Linked DNA regions of Homo sapiens: region 1 is linked to region 2. The links come from fine-mapping of genetic effects on gene expression. Tissue or cell type: transverse colon. Region 2 holds a variant in brackets; the other region holds the start of a gene. All regions are shown on one strand. Distances are between the middles of the regions.

What was found. PIP is the estimated chance that this variant, and not a neighbour inherited with it, causes the effect.
Region 1: SLC6A20 starts here. The variant in region 2 is fine-mapped to the expression of SLC6A20 in transverse colon (GTEx, PIP above 0.99).

Annotation. Positions count from the first base shown.
Region 1 is chr3:45,792,829-45,801,010 of GRCh38, forward strand. SLC6A20 (solute carrier family 6 member 20) reads right to left here and starts at 3,708. Exons shown (of 11, transcript NM_020208.4): 1 at 3,471-3,708. The coding sequence starts at 3,591. It overlaps LOC107986082 (a long non-coding RNA gene), which reads left to right and starts at 3,071. Exons shown (of 3, transcript XR_001740680.2): 1 at 3,071-3,215; 2 at 4,105-4,186.
Region 2 is chr3:45,769,689-45,777,870 of GRCh38, forward strand. SLC6A20 (solute carrier family 6 member 20) reads right to left here. Exons shown (of 11, transcript NM_020208.4): 4 at 6,073-6,300; 5 at 2,817-2,927; 6 at 1,529-1,770; 7 at 521-683. Among named protein-coding and RNA genes, the nearest start is that of SLC6A20, 23 kb to the right of the region's middle. The variant A/G (reference allele first, on the strand shown) is at 3,568.

The DNA of each region.
Region 1 (8,182 bases), 23 kb after region 2:
CTGTTCCACCAAGAGCCAGTTGTTAAACATTTACTGGGACCCTACTGCCGGGCCTGGGGCCACAGAAGCAACCCTGACCCTTCCCTGAAGTGTGGTCCATGGACCAAGCCTTAGCCTTGCTAGGGAGCTTTCTAGAAATGAAGAATCCTGTCCTCCCCCACAGGCGTCTGGATCAGAATCCCTGGAAGTGGGGTCTAGCAACCTGCAGTTTATGAAGATGCTCAGGTAGGCTACAGTTTGACATGCAATTCTCTAAGCAATTTGGGGTAAGCAGTACAGGCAGCTGAAAGAGCTGGCTTCCTGTCCCAGACAGCAAGGGCTTTGCAGGGATGTGGAGCATTCCAGTCTGAGAGTGATACTGTCCCACTGCATAGTCAGGTGTCCTCTGATTTCCCCCTCAATATTGCAGAGAGAAAATTTAAGAGAAAAAAATCCATATTTCCACCAGTCACACAACTGTTCTCATCTCTCCATGTTTCTTCCGTGCACAGGTTTATGTAAAATAGTTAGTGCAGTATTTGCTTTTTACACCTTAGTGCACACACACTTGCATCCCCGATTTCTTCCTGAACAACTACTGCCTTAGATTTTGACATGGTTGCCCAAGACCTGCTGACTTTTTCAAAAAGAGATTTTGTGAAGTTCTTTGAGCTGCCTTTTATTTTTTATTTTTCTAGAGCAGGCAGCCAGGGCTGTACAGAGATGATTGGTACCTGGAATGTAATCTTCAGAATTAACATTCCTCATGCCGGGCCGGGCCTGGCCTGGGGAGCAGGAAGGAAACAAGCCTCTCCAGTCACGGGCAGAGTCCCATGGAGAGGGGCACAGATCCCTAATCCGTCTTATTCTGGGAAGTATTTTGGCACAGCCTGGCTCTGTGGTTTATAAACAAATTCTTTGTTTGCTGGGGGTATTTGCAGCTCTGCTTACAAGGAAGTTATACACCCCTCTGCAGCCTTTCATAATGTGGCTGATTTTTACCTTCCGGTAAGGGATGGGTTGTAAACTGCCTGGGTTTGGGGCAACACAAATCACTTCTTAAAGGTGACTTTACTGTGCAGTGAAAGGCTTGGGAAAGCCTCTAGCATCCTCTAGCGTCATTTATTCTGTGGCTTTTCCTAATACCTTGCTCATTCACTCAACAAATATTTATTGGATGGCTCCTGTGACTCCATCACATCACAGAGGTTGGGCCGGGCGGAGACAGAGAAACTGAAGAACAATGTGCAGTTCTTCTGACCAAGTGCTTATGTGGCCTGTGAAGTAGTGAGGAGAGTCAGAGAGCACAACGGAGAGAAAGCAATATTTGGTCCCACCTGGAGGGAATGGTGGGAGTTCTCCCAGCAACAACAGCCTCTCAGGTGGAGGAAATATCTTGTGTGAAGGGTTGAGGCACAGAAGGAGGTGCTCATGGAAGTGTTTGGAAGGCAGGAGGAGGTTTGAAGCTGTGTGGCAGGAAATGAGGTGGAAATATTGGACAAGTGGTCAAGTTAGGTGGTCAAGTGCCTACGGTGCCAAGTGGACTGTTCGGTCTTTATTCTGTAGACATGTGGCTGACAGGGTGCCATCCACCAGACCCACACCCTCCTTTTGTCTGTGCACCCACTAATCCATGCATACACCCAGCCACCAATCCATGCTCCGTCCGGCTTCCACTCATCTATCTATCCACCCATCCAGCCGAAGCATCCTCTGCACCAGGCACAGGATTACTTCTTGTTTCTTTTTCTTGGAACCTGAGGGTCTTGAGGTTTCCCTAGCAACCCCTTGATACATATTCAACTCCAGAACTATCAGCCCCACATGCATCCCTCTGCAGACTATTCAGGTGATGGTGGTATTATAAACAAGGAATTAAGTAGTCATGTGACAGTGAGGCTCACCTGGACTGATGACTGGGAAACATGTACCCAGGATAAAGGTATCATGGGTAGGTCTACTGAGCACAGAATGATGTGGAAATCTCATTCTGACAAATAATTCTTTTTAAGAGTCAGTTATAGAGCTGTTAGAGCACATGGTAATGCTGTTAGAGCATATGGCAACATATGCCCTTCACATCATTATGGTGTATTTATGCACTTCAAATTTTAAAAAGGAATCAGGAAATTAAGAATGCACTGTTTTAAAAACTCTATGAATTAACCTTTTGTTGATTTGGGGTAAGGGGAGGAGGGAGCAGTGTTTAGCTCTTGGTCTTCTCAAATGGGTTCATTTTCGTAAATACTTTGGTCTAACATCTTCCATGATCTTTTATGGTGAAAAAAACATGCTAATTATAGAAGTCCTAATACACAAACACACACATACACACACAAAAACACACACACACGACAAGGTAAACAAAAATCACCCAGAAATTTTGTTAACAATTTGATGTCTTTTCCCCATTCTTTTCTCTGCATATTTTTAAGTAATTGTTTTAAAATGTCAAATCCATTTTATATAGCTTTGAATCTGATTTCTCCTCCCTCCACTTAATACAGGATACGAGAAAATACAATTTTTTTTTTGAAAATGCCGCCTTAAAGGCTGCGAAGAGCAACCTTGAATGGATGCTCTATAATTTACTGAACCAATCCCCTTTATTTGAGGGCTTAGGAAGTTGCCAATGTTTTGCTCTTATTAAATGATGGTGACCATCCTTCTACCTCTGTCAGAACTCTGACAATTTCCTTTAGATACAATTCTAGAAACGAGACAACCGAGAAAAAAAGTGTTTTAGATGCTGAGACTTAAATCCCTCTTGCCACATTGCCTTCCAAAAAGGTACTTGGGCTTCACGAGGTTATAGACATGTGTAGAAGGTGTTCCCAGCTTTCCGCAACGCTAGGGGAGTGCGGTAAGAGCGCGTGGCTGGCTGGCTGTCCCCGGAGCGTGCATGATGCTTCGGAGGAAACATTTATTTAAGAAAAACAAAACAAAACAGAATGATTTGCATTTCCTGCTTTCTGTCGTTCCAAACTCAAACCAATCTCCTTATAAAAAATTTAAAGAAATGGCTCAAGATTCTCTTAACCTGAGTTTCAAACCGTTGATTTAAGTTTCGGATCTGAAAGTTGTATAACGAGTTTCTGTTGAATAAGACAATTTCCTACTCACTTTTTACACCTAAACGTAAGGTTTACTCACTAAGACGTCAGACCATTGACACTTCTCTCGAAGAAGGAGACCGCGTCCCCTGCGCTCTCAGAGCCGCAGCCTGGCCAACAAGGGTGAGGGTTGGGGGCTTGGCCGCCCCCGGGATGGGGCGAGGGGTTCCCGAGGGCTTGGGAGGGCGGCTTGGGAGAGAGCTCCGGCTCCGGAACGAGGTGTCCTGGGAACACTCCCGGGTCTGTAACTTCGGACAAATCACGCTCGCTTTCCCGGCCTCAGTGTGCCGTTCTGTAACTTGGGTCTAACCCCGGCTCGCACACACGGCGGGGACGCGCACAGAGTTGGGCTGGGGCCGGGGCGCGGTGGGCACTCACCTCCGCCGTACATCTGGCACAGGTACGGGAATCGCCACACGTTGCCCAGGCCCACGGCGTACGAGATGCAGGCGAACACGAACTGTAGCGAGTTGGCCCACAGCGGCCGCGCTTTCTCCATGGCCCCGGCCTCGGCGCGCTCGGCTCCGGCTCGGGGGTCCGGCACGGCAGTCTCAGTGCGCGGTCGCCAGGCGCGCCGTCCCACCCCGGCTCGGCTTGGGGGTGGCCCCGCGCCTCCGCCGCCGACGCAGCTAGCTGGTTTTTAAATTGCTAATCTCATTAACGGCGCGCCCGTCCGAGAGGCGAGGCTGGTAAATGGATGACGGCGAGCCCCACCCCGCCCGATCGTCGCGGCCGGGAAGGCACCCGAGATTGCAGAGGACAGGGCGGAGTCCCCTGGGGTCCTCCGGCTCGGCGGGGCCTTTCTTCAGGCTGCGGAACTCCTCGAAGTGGGCGCCTTCCCTCGGCCACTCACCTGTCATTTATCGAGCGCCTACTGTGTGCCAGGCGTTGTCTGGGGACACGGCTGTGAACCACTTCCCAGCTCCGTCTTGGAGCTGACATTCTGGTAGAGGGAAACACTTGAATTGGACTGCATGAAATGCCCCATTTTCAACCATTTTTTAATTTATAGAAAGGACAATGTCATATGGTTCAACCTAGCCCACGTATAAGACTGAGAGACGCGAGGAAGACACCTAAGGCAAAGTAAAGGGGTAAGCAGTTGCGGGGGGTGGCCAGGGATGGTTAGGGAGGGCTTCTCAGAGGAGAGAACATAACATTTGCCAGGGGCCAGAAAGAAGTGAGGGACCTTCCCGGCAGTCCCGTCCCCTCCGTCCACCCAACAGCTTGGCCCTGCGTGCCTACTGGGTCCGGGGACGGAATCAGGTTTTGAACTGCTGTGGGGGACTCTACTGCTCAGGCCAGCCTAGGGGCCAGAAATTTTGATTCATTAGGCCAGGGTAGGGAACTAAGAAACCTCGTATTTCTGCCAGTCTTACAACGTGATTTGCTTGAGGGTGGTCACTAGATAAGACAGAGCTTGGTGCTTTGCAGTAATGTGGAATCTGGGTTTGTATACCAACTCTGCTACTGACTTAGCTGTGTGACCTTGGACAAGGCACTTGACTTCTCTGAGTCTCTGTGTACTCCTCTGTAATGCTAACAGATATCTTCCCCTCTCTCCTGCCTGGCAAGGAAGAGCTCATGTGAGGATTAATTGGGAACTTAGCTTACTACCTGGCACAGAGTAAGTTCTCAATAAAGAGGCCATTACCAAGTCTCCAGCAGGCTGAATGAATGAATGGGTAACATATTAATACTAATGCCACGCTTTGAACAGTGCCTAATACATTGTAACAGATAAGAAAATGCTAAATAATAATAATAAAATTTAAAAGAGATGAAAAGCAGAGTTGCTAGTGAAAATCTTACTTGAAGCCAAAATGAAATCAGTGCTCTAGGACAGCTCCTTGTTGGGCTTTCCCTGGAGTTCCTGCCTGTCTGGTCCCAGAGGAGAAGGGTGAGTAGGGTGAGGGAGGTGGAGGCTTCCTCAGACATATTACCTGTCCTGGAACTTCCTACCTCGAAAAAGCAAAGCAGAAAAAAAAGGCAGCACAGCAGGAGAAACTACTTTAATTTTTTTAAACTTCAGATTCTAGATAAATGTTTTTTCCTACCCATTGCCTCCTCCCCAAAGGAACCTACCATCCTGGTGTCTAACCCCATGGGTTAGTTTTGACCTTGATGAAAATGGAATTAAATGGGATGTACTTTTTCTGTGCCTGGCTTCATTTGCTTTCCGTTGTTTGTGGGGTTCATTCATGTTCTAGTGTGTTGTGTAGCTGTGGGTCATTCTCTCTCACTGCAGTATACTTGTCGGTGGTGTGAGTATGCTCCAGTCTACTACTGACAGATGTCTGTGTTGTCTCCAGTTTGGGGCTGTCATGAATAGGGCTGCAATGCACATTCTAGTGCACGTTCTTCCGTAGATGAATGCACTCACTGCTGGGAACTTCTTGGCCTTAGGATAGGTGTGTTTGGCTTTAGCAGATATTGTCAGACTGTTTTCCAGAGTGTGGTAGTACAAGCTGACACTCCCTTTGGGTTTCAGTTGCTTTTGCTTTGCATCCTAACACTTGTCATTCTATTTCTAAAGGTCTGCCCAGTCTTGTAGGTGTATAGTGATAGTTCATTGTGCCTTTTTTTTTTTTTTTGAGACGGCGTCTCACTGTGTCGCCCAGGCTGGAGCACAGTGGCGCGATCTCGGCTCACTGCAAGTGCCACCTCTGGGGTTCGCGCCATTCTCCTGCCTCAGCCTCCCGAGTAGCTGGGACTACAGGCACCCATCACTATGCCCAGCTAATTTTGTTTTTGTATTTTTATTAGAGACGGGGTTTCACCGTGTTAGCCAGGATGGTCTCAATCTCCTGACCTTGTGATCTGCCCGCCTCAGCCTCCCAAAGTACTGGGATTACAGGCGTGAGCCACCACGCCTGGCCCATTGTGCCTTATTTTAACTTCCCTCATGACCAGTAAGGCTGCATACCATTCCATAGGCTAATTGGGCCATCTAGGTATCTTTTTTCATGAAGTGCCTGTTCAAATTTTTTGTCAGTTTTTAATTGGGTTGTCTGATTTTTTCCTACCGATTTGTAGTTCTTTATGTATTCTGGATTTGGGTCCTATGCCAGTTTAGTGTATTACAAATTGCTTTTCTCAGTCTGTGTTGCCTTTTATTCTGTCAGTGGTGTCTTCTAATGAAGAGATATTTTTAACTTTAACAAAGTCCAATTTCCCAATCTTTTCCTTTAGTGTCCTCCTTTGGTGGTTTTTCTTATGTCCTGTTTAAGAAAGCACTCCTTTATCAACTCCAAGGCTGTGAAGATATTCCTGAGAATATATAAGACTCAGGCAAAATGAGTCTCAGCCATCCATAGATAGGGCTACCCGCCCTCCCCCTACAAAGGACTCCTCACAGCAATGGCAGCAGACGGAGTGCCAGCATTTTCTTGTGCTGGTTCCCTGGGCTCCAATTCGACGGGGCTGCCTTTTTAAAGTGGTTTTGCATTGTTTAGGCAGAAGGCTTGTTGCTGCCTCCAGCTATCTGCTTGCATGTTCTTGTTCTCATATATGAGTTATTCCTAGAGGGTACCTGGCTATGCAGTGACCTTCAGGAACTGGGCACTTTGGAGAGATGCCTCACCTGGACCATGAGGCTGCTGGGACCTTGTTGGTTTGATGGAGGCAAGGCCTCTCTTTAATTCCCTACCTCTGAGATCAGGCCAGCACCTCCTTCCATTCATACTGCTATACTCCCTGGGAGCCCATCCAGTATGTGAGACCCTGTGTGGTAGCTTTGGGCAGCACGAAGAATCACCCAGATAACCCCAAAGAGCAGTAAGTAAATGCAATGGGGCAGATAATCAGGGCTCCTGGTAGGGTCCCCATGACTTTCTGAAGCCTATGTGACAGCTCTCATCTGACAAGGCCAGTTGTGCTGCTGGGACTCATAGAGTGGAGAGGACAGGCCTGGAAGGGTTGGGGGGCTTCCGCAGAGAGCCAGCAAGACAGAGGGTGGAGAGGAGTGGTAGGCTGGCAGGTATGTAACCACTGGCTCTCTGCAGAAAAAGCTCTGATTTGTCACATTTGCCAATTTCTGTGGTGTAAACACTTTTACTATGACTTTTTTTTTTTTTTTTTTTTTTTTTGACAGTGTTTTGCTGCAATGCCCAGGCTGGAGTGCAGTGTCACAATCTTGGCTCACTGCAACCTCCGCCTCCCGTGTTCAAGCAATTCTCCTGCCTCGGCCTCCTGAGTAGCTGAGATTACAGGTGCCCACCACCACGCCCGGCTAATTTTTGTATTTTTGGTAGAGATGGGGTTTCACCATGTTGGCCAGCCTGGTCTTGAACTCCTGACCTCACGTGATCCACCCGCCTTGGCCTCCCAAAGTGCTGGGATTACAGGCATGAGCCACCTCACCTGGCCTTACTATGACTGATTCTAAGCTACCAAAGTGATGTCACTAAACGTGGAGACATGCAGTAGCACACCATTGTACTGAGTCTCCACTATCCAGATCCAACAGGCATAGATAATAGTACAGTCAATAATTAGGAAGTGCCAAGTTTTGTGTATTTATTACCTCTGTTTTAAATAACTTATTCAATTGCTAGCTTATGTAGTTTAATTCTTAGTGGCCATGTTTAACAACCAGCCCACAGAATTCTAGAAAATTTACCAGTTGGCTCTCAAGAGTGTGTGGCAGCTGGCTTTGGCATTCAGCAGGGGGATTGGGGCTAGGGAAATCACTTCTGCATGGCAGGGACAAGGGGAGTGAGTTCAGCTCAGTGGTGTCTGGTGCCCCATGGCAATGGGGTTTTCAGCTTAGCTGAGCCCCACTCTGAGTGCTCCTTGGGGCCTCCACTGCTAGTATGCAAGACACTGCCTGTGGACCGGTCTCACTGTGCCCCATGTCACTCAGGACAGACTTACCTGCAGGATAGAAGGCTAGCATGCCTTAGTTATCTGATTTCCGGAAGGGGTGGAGACACTGGGGAGGGCCCTGACTCAGTTGTATGGGTGTGGGCTCCTGGGCCCGTGCCAGGGTTCCTGATTACCCTGCCGACCATGAAGTTCATGCCACTTTCAATAATTTGCTCATCCTAGTGATGCCATTGTTACTTAACCACCCTCAGTGGCTCCCAGTC
Region 2 (8,182 bases):
GCTTGTTGAAAAAAGAAAAAATAAAACAAAAACTGCCAACAAAACAATGATATTATTTAAGAATACATAGATGGGTAATAGAAATATAAAAATGAAGGTTCTTGCCTTTGGTGAGTAGGGAAAAAAAGGGGGACTTTTTAACTTCATCTCTGAAATGTTCTTTTATATAAAAAAATCTGAGCCCAAAATGACAAAATGTTTACAATTGATCTTTCTGAGTGGTATATATGGGTGTTTGTTATTCTCTCTACTTTTCTGTATTTTAAAAGCTTAGAAAGACAAAAGAAAAAGAGAGAAAGGACAGAGAGGTCCGCCAGGAAGTTTATTATAACTAGCATTCTCGAACAGCCCTCAAGAGAGTGGTGTTAAAGCCTCTCTTCCCCTTGGAGTTGCAGGAAAAGTAATTCAGGATCCTTCTTTATTTTTACAGACCTCGCCTATCTCCCAAGTCAGCAGCTCACCAAGGTTCCCATGAGTGTGTGGAGAGAAGCCAGTCCTTGACCTTGCCTGGGCATCTTACCGTGTCTAGCTCCGATTCCAAGCTGCAGTTTTTGATTTGCGGGAACATCTCGCTGTATTTGCTTGGGTAGGCAGATGCGAGGTAGCCCTTCACCTGCTCCAGGTTGCTGGCTGTCAAAAAGCCATCTTCAAGGTCAAAAGTGTTGGTCAGCAGCAGACTCACCCTGCAGAGCAGACCATCGGATCGACCTTCACTGATCAGAAAGGCAGCTGTCACCAAAGCCTCCCGTCAGCCTCTTCTTTTCTGATTAGGTGAGGAAAGGGAGTCTGTTGCTTGGTGATCTTTTAAAGGGCAGGGTAATTTTGAATGGCACTGAAGAAGCCTCAGATATGAACAGTGATGACAACAGGCACCAAACTCACACAGCTAGGCTATTTTAACCTCTGGACCAACATAGTCCAGCAGAAGTTTCTGTGCTGATGAAAATGCTCTCTATCTGGGCTGTCCAATTTGGTACTCACTGGCCACATATGGCAACTGAGCACTTAATGGTGGACACTGAGCAACTGATTGAAAGTAACAAGGGAATGTACTGAAATATGAATTAAGTTATTTAAATGTGAATTAAGTTGCATTGATTTAAATGTAAATTTGTAAATAGCCACTTGTGGCTAGTGACTACCCAACTGGACAGCATACCTCCTGGATGATGTCTTTGTATTTTGGGCAAGGGGCCACAGAAAGTGAATCCTGCAATCTCTGTGGCTCAGCTAGAGGCTTCTTGGTTACTTCTGAGGTGGGGGAGATGGGGTAGAAGAAACAAAATTTGATCATTGTATGTCCTATTATGCTAAGTGCTCACAACACGCTAACGTGCCCTCATCCCTGCCAGGCAGATGTTGACATGCCCCAGGCCCTCCAGCAACTGGTGGTGGTGTAGGGAGTCCAAATGTGAGCCCTGGATTGAGGACTCCAAAACTGGTGCACTTTGCCCCAGCCCTTGCCCAGGCGACCCTTCAGCTCAGAGCTCAGGGAGGCCTGGGACTCGGTGGGACAGCCCAGGCTTACTTCTTCAAGCAGTTTTCATAATTGAAGGTGGCCTTGAAGCCATAGATGGAGAAGGTGACAATGCTGGCAAATATGGAGGTGAAGCTGTTGATGAGGGACACGATGATGGCGTGCTTCTGGCAGTTGTTGGATGGCTCATTGTAGCTGGCGAAGGCGATCAGGCTGCCGAAGCCCAGGCCAAGTGAGAAGAAGATCTGGGTGGCTGCATTGATCCAGGCCTTGGGGTTGGCCAGCTGCTCTATCTGGAAGGCCAGCAGGGACAGGGCTGATGATCCCTGGGTGGAATCCCAAATGCTCAGACCCGCAACAGGAGAGTAGCCCAGAGAGGGGAAGGAGCTCACCTACAGCACGCAGCCATCAGGGGCACCCCTAGGGCTGGAGACCAGCTCTCCTGGCCCCATCCACTCCCTGGCAGATGAAACACACACCTCAAGCTGCACACCTCCCAGGGCTAAGGTGCTGTGGAGAATACAGGTGCTATGTGGAGGACATAAGGTGCTACGTATCCTCCATAGCACCTCAGCCATAGGAGGTGTGTAACCAGAAGCAGCTATGCTCACCACTATACGCCAGTGCGGAGGTGTGCAATGGAATACTGCAGGGTAAAATAATTAAAACACAAATGGGGCCCTGATTCATAGGCAGTTACTGCACAGGTCTGGGCATTCAGAGATGGAGGGGGTGTGGCCTGGCAGGGGAGGTCTAGGTGTGGGTTGACTCTCGGCACTGACATCGGTGGCGTCTGGAATGGGGAAGGGGAAGGATGACACAGTCATTTTATTTCTAGGGACTGCATTTGCCAAATGAAGAACTTGCCCCATCCCAAAGGCAAGAGTGCACCCTCCATGGATGAACCCTGGGTGTGGGGTGCATGGAGAATGGGTGGGTTGGGAAACTCTGTAGGGAAACGGGTGCGTGGAACCATGTAAGCAGGCAAGCAAGATGACCAGAGTGGTGCTCATGGCAAAAAGCTTGGTCCACAGTCTGAAAGGGGCTTGAGGTGAGGCAGTGGCAGGGGTGCAGCAGTTGGGGGACAGTGAGGATGAAGAGGAGAAGCTGAAAGAAAGACTTAATGCTCCAGAATTAACAGGGAGTGGGGATGACCTGGCTGAGGAGGTGATCCAGTGACTGCAGGTACTCCACACTCCTGCCACACCCTGGTGGGCTCACATCAGCTTCCGTAGGTACAGCGTTGGCCCACTCTCCACCTTTCCCTCTTCCCACCCATCCTGGAAGGTGGCAGGATAAGTGAGGGGTGCCCGTAGGGCCCTTCCGCTTCAGCCCGTACCTTGGGAGTGAACATGTACATGAGGCCATTGGTGGCTCCGTGGAGCGTGAGGCCCCTGATGAGGTAGATGATGAGCACGCAATAGGGCAGTGACGCCGTGAAATACACCACCTGCGGGCATCAGAGGGCAGAGTTGGCCTCCCGGAGCAGTGGGGTCCACAGGACAGACCCATGCCCCATGGAACACCACATCTGGGGTATTCAGGCTGCACCGCCCAGCTGCTGACAGCTGGAAAAGGCATGGAGATTCTTGGTCACACACAGGCTCTGGGTTAGGGCTGGGGAAGTGGGCTGGTGGGATGTGGTTGCTCACAGCTGTGACCAGCACGACATTTCTTATTCAGTAGAGAAGAGGCAAACAGGTACCGAGCCTCTGCCTTCCACCCTCCCTTCAACCTGACCTTATTCTGGAAAGGATTTGAGGTTACCCACAAAAACACATCAGTCACGTTAACATTTCAAAATTGCTAAAGAAATCAGCATGAAAAAAATATATGGGCAATCCAGTAATGAGCCCACAGGAAAAAGCAGCCCATAGAATCTGTGCATAAGTCTCTACCCAGTTTCTGAGCCAGATTCAGCTCTGAGCTTCCTGGTGGCCTACACACAAAGCAGGAACACAATTAAAAGGAAAAAAAAATCTGCAGCTTGGAGGAGGACAGATTTCCCCAGGACTGGGGCCTGAGAGCAGATTGGTCACGAGTGCTCATACAGGAAAGCAGCGAGGTGTAGCGTAGAGGACAATGTCCCC[A/G]TAATAAACACAATAGGAAATTCAGATCTGATTTTTATGGCAACCCTCCAGAAAGGGTTTACTTCCTTAGGCTTTAACATTACACCTGAATGGACATTTTTGTCAACCAGATCTTCTTTCTCCACCGACATGCATCGTAAGTTCAATGATGTTTTGTTAATATCTTTGGTGTTCATGGTAGCTTTAGTAGTCACCTGTCATGCTCTGGGTGATTCTAACTGTTACAAAGCCATAGAATACAGACCTTCAAGTGCACGTGTGCCTATCCAGGAATGGATTTTTTTCTGTAAATCAACTCATATGTGTACCAGAGCCTCATTTGTAAAGGAAATAAATATTTTGCAAGATTGTCTTTTGTGTAAGAGTTCCCTTAAAGTTTGAGTCTCTCTGTGAGAAATATGGCTGGTGGCCTATGTTCAGGTGGGCTTGAATTACACTTGGCCCTCCCTTCCTATTGAGGTGTGGCATCATCTTCTCATCCATTTCCAAGGCCACCAGAATGGCACTCTGTACGCTGTCACCCAGGGGACGGCAGGTGGAATGTGGGGTGTGTCTTTTATCACTGCTTCTTAGCTGAGGTTGTTGTAACTTGAGAAGAGTAATAAATCCACCCAAGATTATAAGAAACCAGGTAAGAGAGATGAAAAGACAGAGCACTCACTCGTGACCAACATCCATCACAATGGGCACTAAGCAGGCCCTTAGGGCCAGCCCCGAGAATTTCCCTCCTTCCCCCAAGGTGAGCAAGTTTCCTGGAGGCTCATGGAGTCCCTAAGTGGGCAGAATTGCTGGACACGTGATCCAGCCTAATCTATTGGAAGAAACCAATTCTGACCACTCTGCAGAGATTCTGGCAGGAAACAAAGTCGATTCCAACAGAGGATGCCAGGAAATGGCACATGGTCTGTGACAAGATTAGCTCTATTTACATAGAGCTGTTGGGGTACTTTTCCCAGGGAGAAGGGTGTAGCTGAAGCAGAGGAAATAGATGATAAGAATAAATAAGTTTTTATGGCATGACATGGTCTTATGCAACACATTTCAAAGTGATTGGGAAAAGGAATGGTCTCTAATCTCTACCTCTGCAGATGTTGCCCTCTGATCTCTTGGATCATGATCATAATAATCTGGCAAACATAAATTACAAAAACATTTTTTATGAGCATGACAGTATGGCCAGGCTCTACGATGGGACTGAGTGGGCTGCTGCAGGTTCTAAGCTCTCTCGGGGAAAGAGCACCTGTGCTCACTCGTCCCTTTCCTCAGCCATGGCACAGGGGACTTTGGGGGCTAAGAGGCTGGTCATCAGGGGCTCTTAGAAACCAAAATAAAATGCCCTACCAGGCATGATACTGGAGTTGTCCCATGGGCCCTGGAATACCATGGGTAGCTCTGGTCTAATGCCTCAAGAAATACATGGGGGGTGGGGTGTGGCTGGAGGAGACAACTCAGGTAGTCAGAGGGTGAGGACAGGTGGGCTCCTAGGACTCTCAGCAGGTGACAGTTGGAATTGATGACATCATTAAGGCATAGAGAGAGCTATGTGGCTACCAAACCAAGACAATGGGAAGTCTTGGGGTGAGGCTGGGCTTTGCCCTCACTAGCTGTGCCCTTGGGCAGGTCAATTTACCTCTCTAAGCTTCAGGTAACTGGGATCATGAAATCTACCATGAAAGGCTGTTGCCAGAATGACACAATGTGGGTGCTCAAGCCGTGGTGGGTCTACTGTGAGAAGTGACAGTGAATGAGACAGGGTGTGCTAGGCTCCGAGACATCTGCTGAAGCTTCAGGCAGGTGGCGGGTGATGGGAACACTGAAAGCAAACCTTCTACGTGGAGCAGACTAGAGATGAAGGAACATGTCAGCCCCAGTGAAAGTGTGAGCCTTGGGATGCACCAAGAAAGGATTATGGAGATCAAGCCCGACAGCTCTGGAGGGTGATTGGAAGCAGCTTAGAACAAAGGGTCTCAAACTCAGCTGCAAATTAGAATCACCTGGCGAGCTTTTAAACCTCCCCTGCCTCCCCACCCAGTGCTCAGGACACACCCCAGACTGGTTACTGCAGAATTTTGGGGGGCGGGGCTAAGGCATGAGATTTTTGAAAACTCTCCAGAAAATACCAATGTGCAGCTGAGTTGGAGAGCCAGTGGCTAGGGTGTCTCGAGGATACATACAATCTTAAAGAAAAGCAAACTCACTGTCTGGTTGTCTGGGTGGTATGGATTTGGGGCTGACTGCTACAGAAAAACTTTTTTTTTCTAAGAAAGTCCTTGTTTTGAGATTTAGGGTTGCAACTTTAACCATCTCTGGCCCTCTCTATAGTCATCTAGTAGGTGACTTGTCCCAGCAACACCATCTGTGCCCTCTGCCCTAACATAGCTGCTGCCTTTCCACTGCAGAGGGCACTCCCTTGGCATTGCCTAGGGTTGGAGACAGAGGCAGCTGCCCCTTGGTGCACCCTCCCACCCACCAGGAGCACCGGGCTTCTGTGCCTCACTGTCCCACCTTGCCAGTGGACTCGGTGCCACGCAGGATGCACAGGTACACCACCAGCCAGGCCAGGAGGAGGCACAGCGCCGGCTCCCACTGCACACCCCCGTTCTCCTGGAGGGACGGCGAGATATTGAGGGTTTTCCTGTACCAGAAGTACTGTGTGGAGGACGCCTTCTCACACTCCTCATCGTAGCCCGTGTGGTTACCATTCAGTGGGCAGACAGACCACGGCAGGGGATCCTGTGGGACCAAAGCAAGTGTTATCCAGGGAGGTGAAGGCTGAGGACAAAGGCTGTGGCAGGGGTGAGGGAGGTGGCCCTGAGCGGAGACTCTTGGAAGAGAAGGGTGCTGGTCCCCGAAGGGCAGGTGGCTGGAGCCCCTGAAGGCAGACTGGGAGTTGGAGAGTTTGTCAGGGGGCACGGGTGAGGCAGGAAGGGGTTGGAGGAGGGGGCTCTACTCTCGTTGCAATTCTACGGGTGTTCCTTGAGGACTACTGAACTCTGTGGTGGGTCCCAGAGACTGAATAGCAAATGGACCACAGCCAGGCCAGCCCTGATGATGGAACTCCGACCCACGGCCTGTGCACAATCAGCTCAGGCACTTAAACCACACCCTCTGCAGCACTGGCCCAGATTGCTTAGGACTTGGTCAATGATTGAGAGAGTCCCTATTTTTTGGCCAACTCAGAACCAACCAGAGAAAGTGACAGAGAGCCCAGTTCAGAGTAGCTTAAGCAGATGAGAGTCTTACTGGCTCCACCCTGCAAAGTCCAGGAGTCTAACTGCTTCAGGTATAGCTTGACTCTAGCTCAAAGAAGTCACCAGCACCAGGTTCTCTCGGGCTCAGACATGCAGGACAGCTGTGGGGCCTGAACCTCATCTCCTGCTAGCTTCCAAACCCAATGTACATTGCAGGAAATGCCATTCGCCACCAGCACTTAGTGAGCACAGAACCTGAGACTTACGCATCTCAGGACTTGAGGAAATCAGCAAAGACCACCCAAGTGAGAACAAGCAGAGGCTGTTTACTTAGGACTTGCTACAGCAAGGGCGATAGCAGCATCGCTTGCATTTGGCGGGGCTCCAAGGCAGGCGGGGATTGGGAAAGCTTGTTAGTGAGAAAAGAGAAGGCTCCAGGTGTGCCCCCATAGGAGGCTGCTGGCGTGTCACTTATGAACAAAGGAGCCTCAATGGTGCATGCATCATGACCATGACCCGAGGCCAAGTGGTAAACAGTGGTGCTGAGATGGGAGGGAGGGGAGGAAAAGTTACTTCTGACTGTGGGGTAGGAGACCCCAACCCTGCTCTTTGAGGACCAGCCCCACATTGATCAGTTTTGCACATATCTGGGTTCTACAAGCCCAGATTTAATTAGACAAAAACGCATCATTAATGGAAGCAAGTCTGACCACCCCACTGGGCTCAATCCCATATTTCACAGGAGACAGAACCAAGGCCCGGGGTATCACCTAATGGGTCATGGCTACTGTGCCAGTAGGCAGCTGGAGCCCAGGTCTGCACACCCAGACAGTGCTCAGGACTGTCCTGGTGAGGACCTCCACGCCCACCCCTGCAATACCTCCCCAGGCCACCCTAGCCTATTGGAATGTGTGAGCTGGTTTCTTGCTTTGACCCATATCGTGTTCAAAGCTGGCCACCAACAGTCCTTCCCCTTCCCATGTGCACATTTCTCCCATCCAGAAGTGGTGTCTCTTGCCTCAGCCTGTGAGTCTGGGCTGTCCTCCGATGCAAGCTGACCAACTGAATATGGTGAAGAGATGCTGTGTGAGTGACTTCCCGGCCCAGGACTTCAGAACCCTGTAGCTAGCCTCTCACCCTCTTGGAGACCAGCTGTGGGACATCCAGGCTAGCTTCCTGAATGATGCGGGTGCAGGGAGAGGGAGGCACGTGGAGGGAACTGAGGTGCCCAGTGGCAGCCAGCACCAAGTCCCAGGCAGGTGACAGGGGTCCTGGTAGACCTGAAGCCCAGTTGAGCTGCCTAGGCTGACATCCCCTTGGGCCATTTACAGCCTGTGTGGGACTGACCTGAGTCTGTTCCCTGGACTACCTGCTGATGCCAGACCGGGCCTGCTTCCCAGGCTTGGCTACACGACTAAGGCACC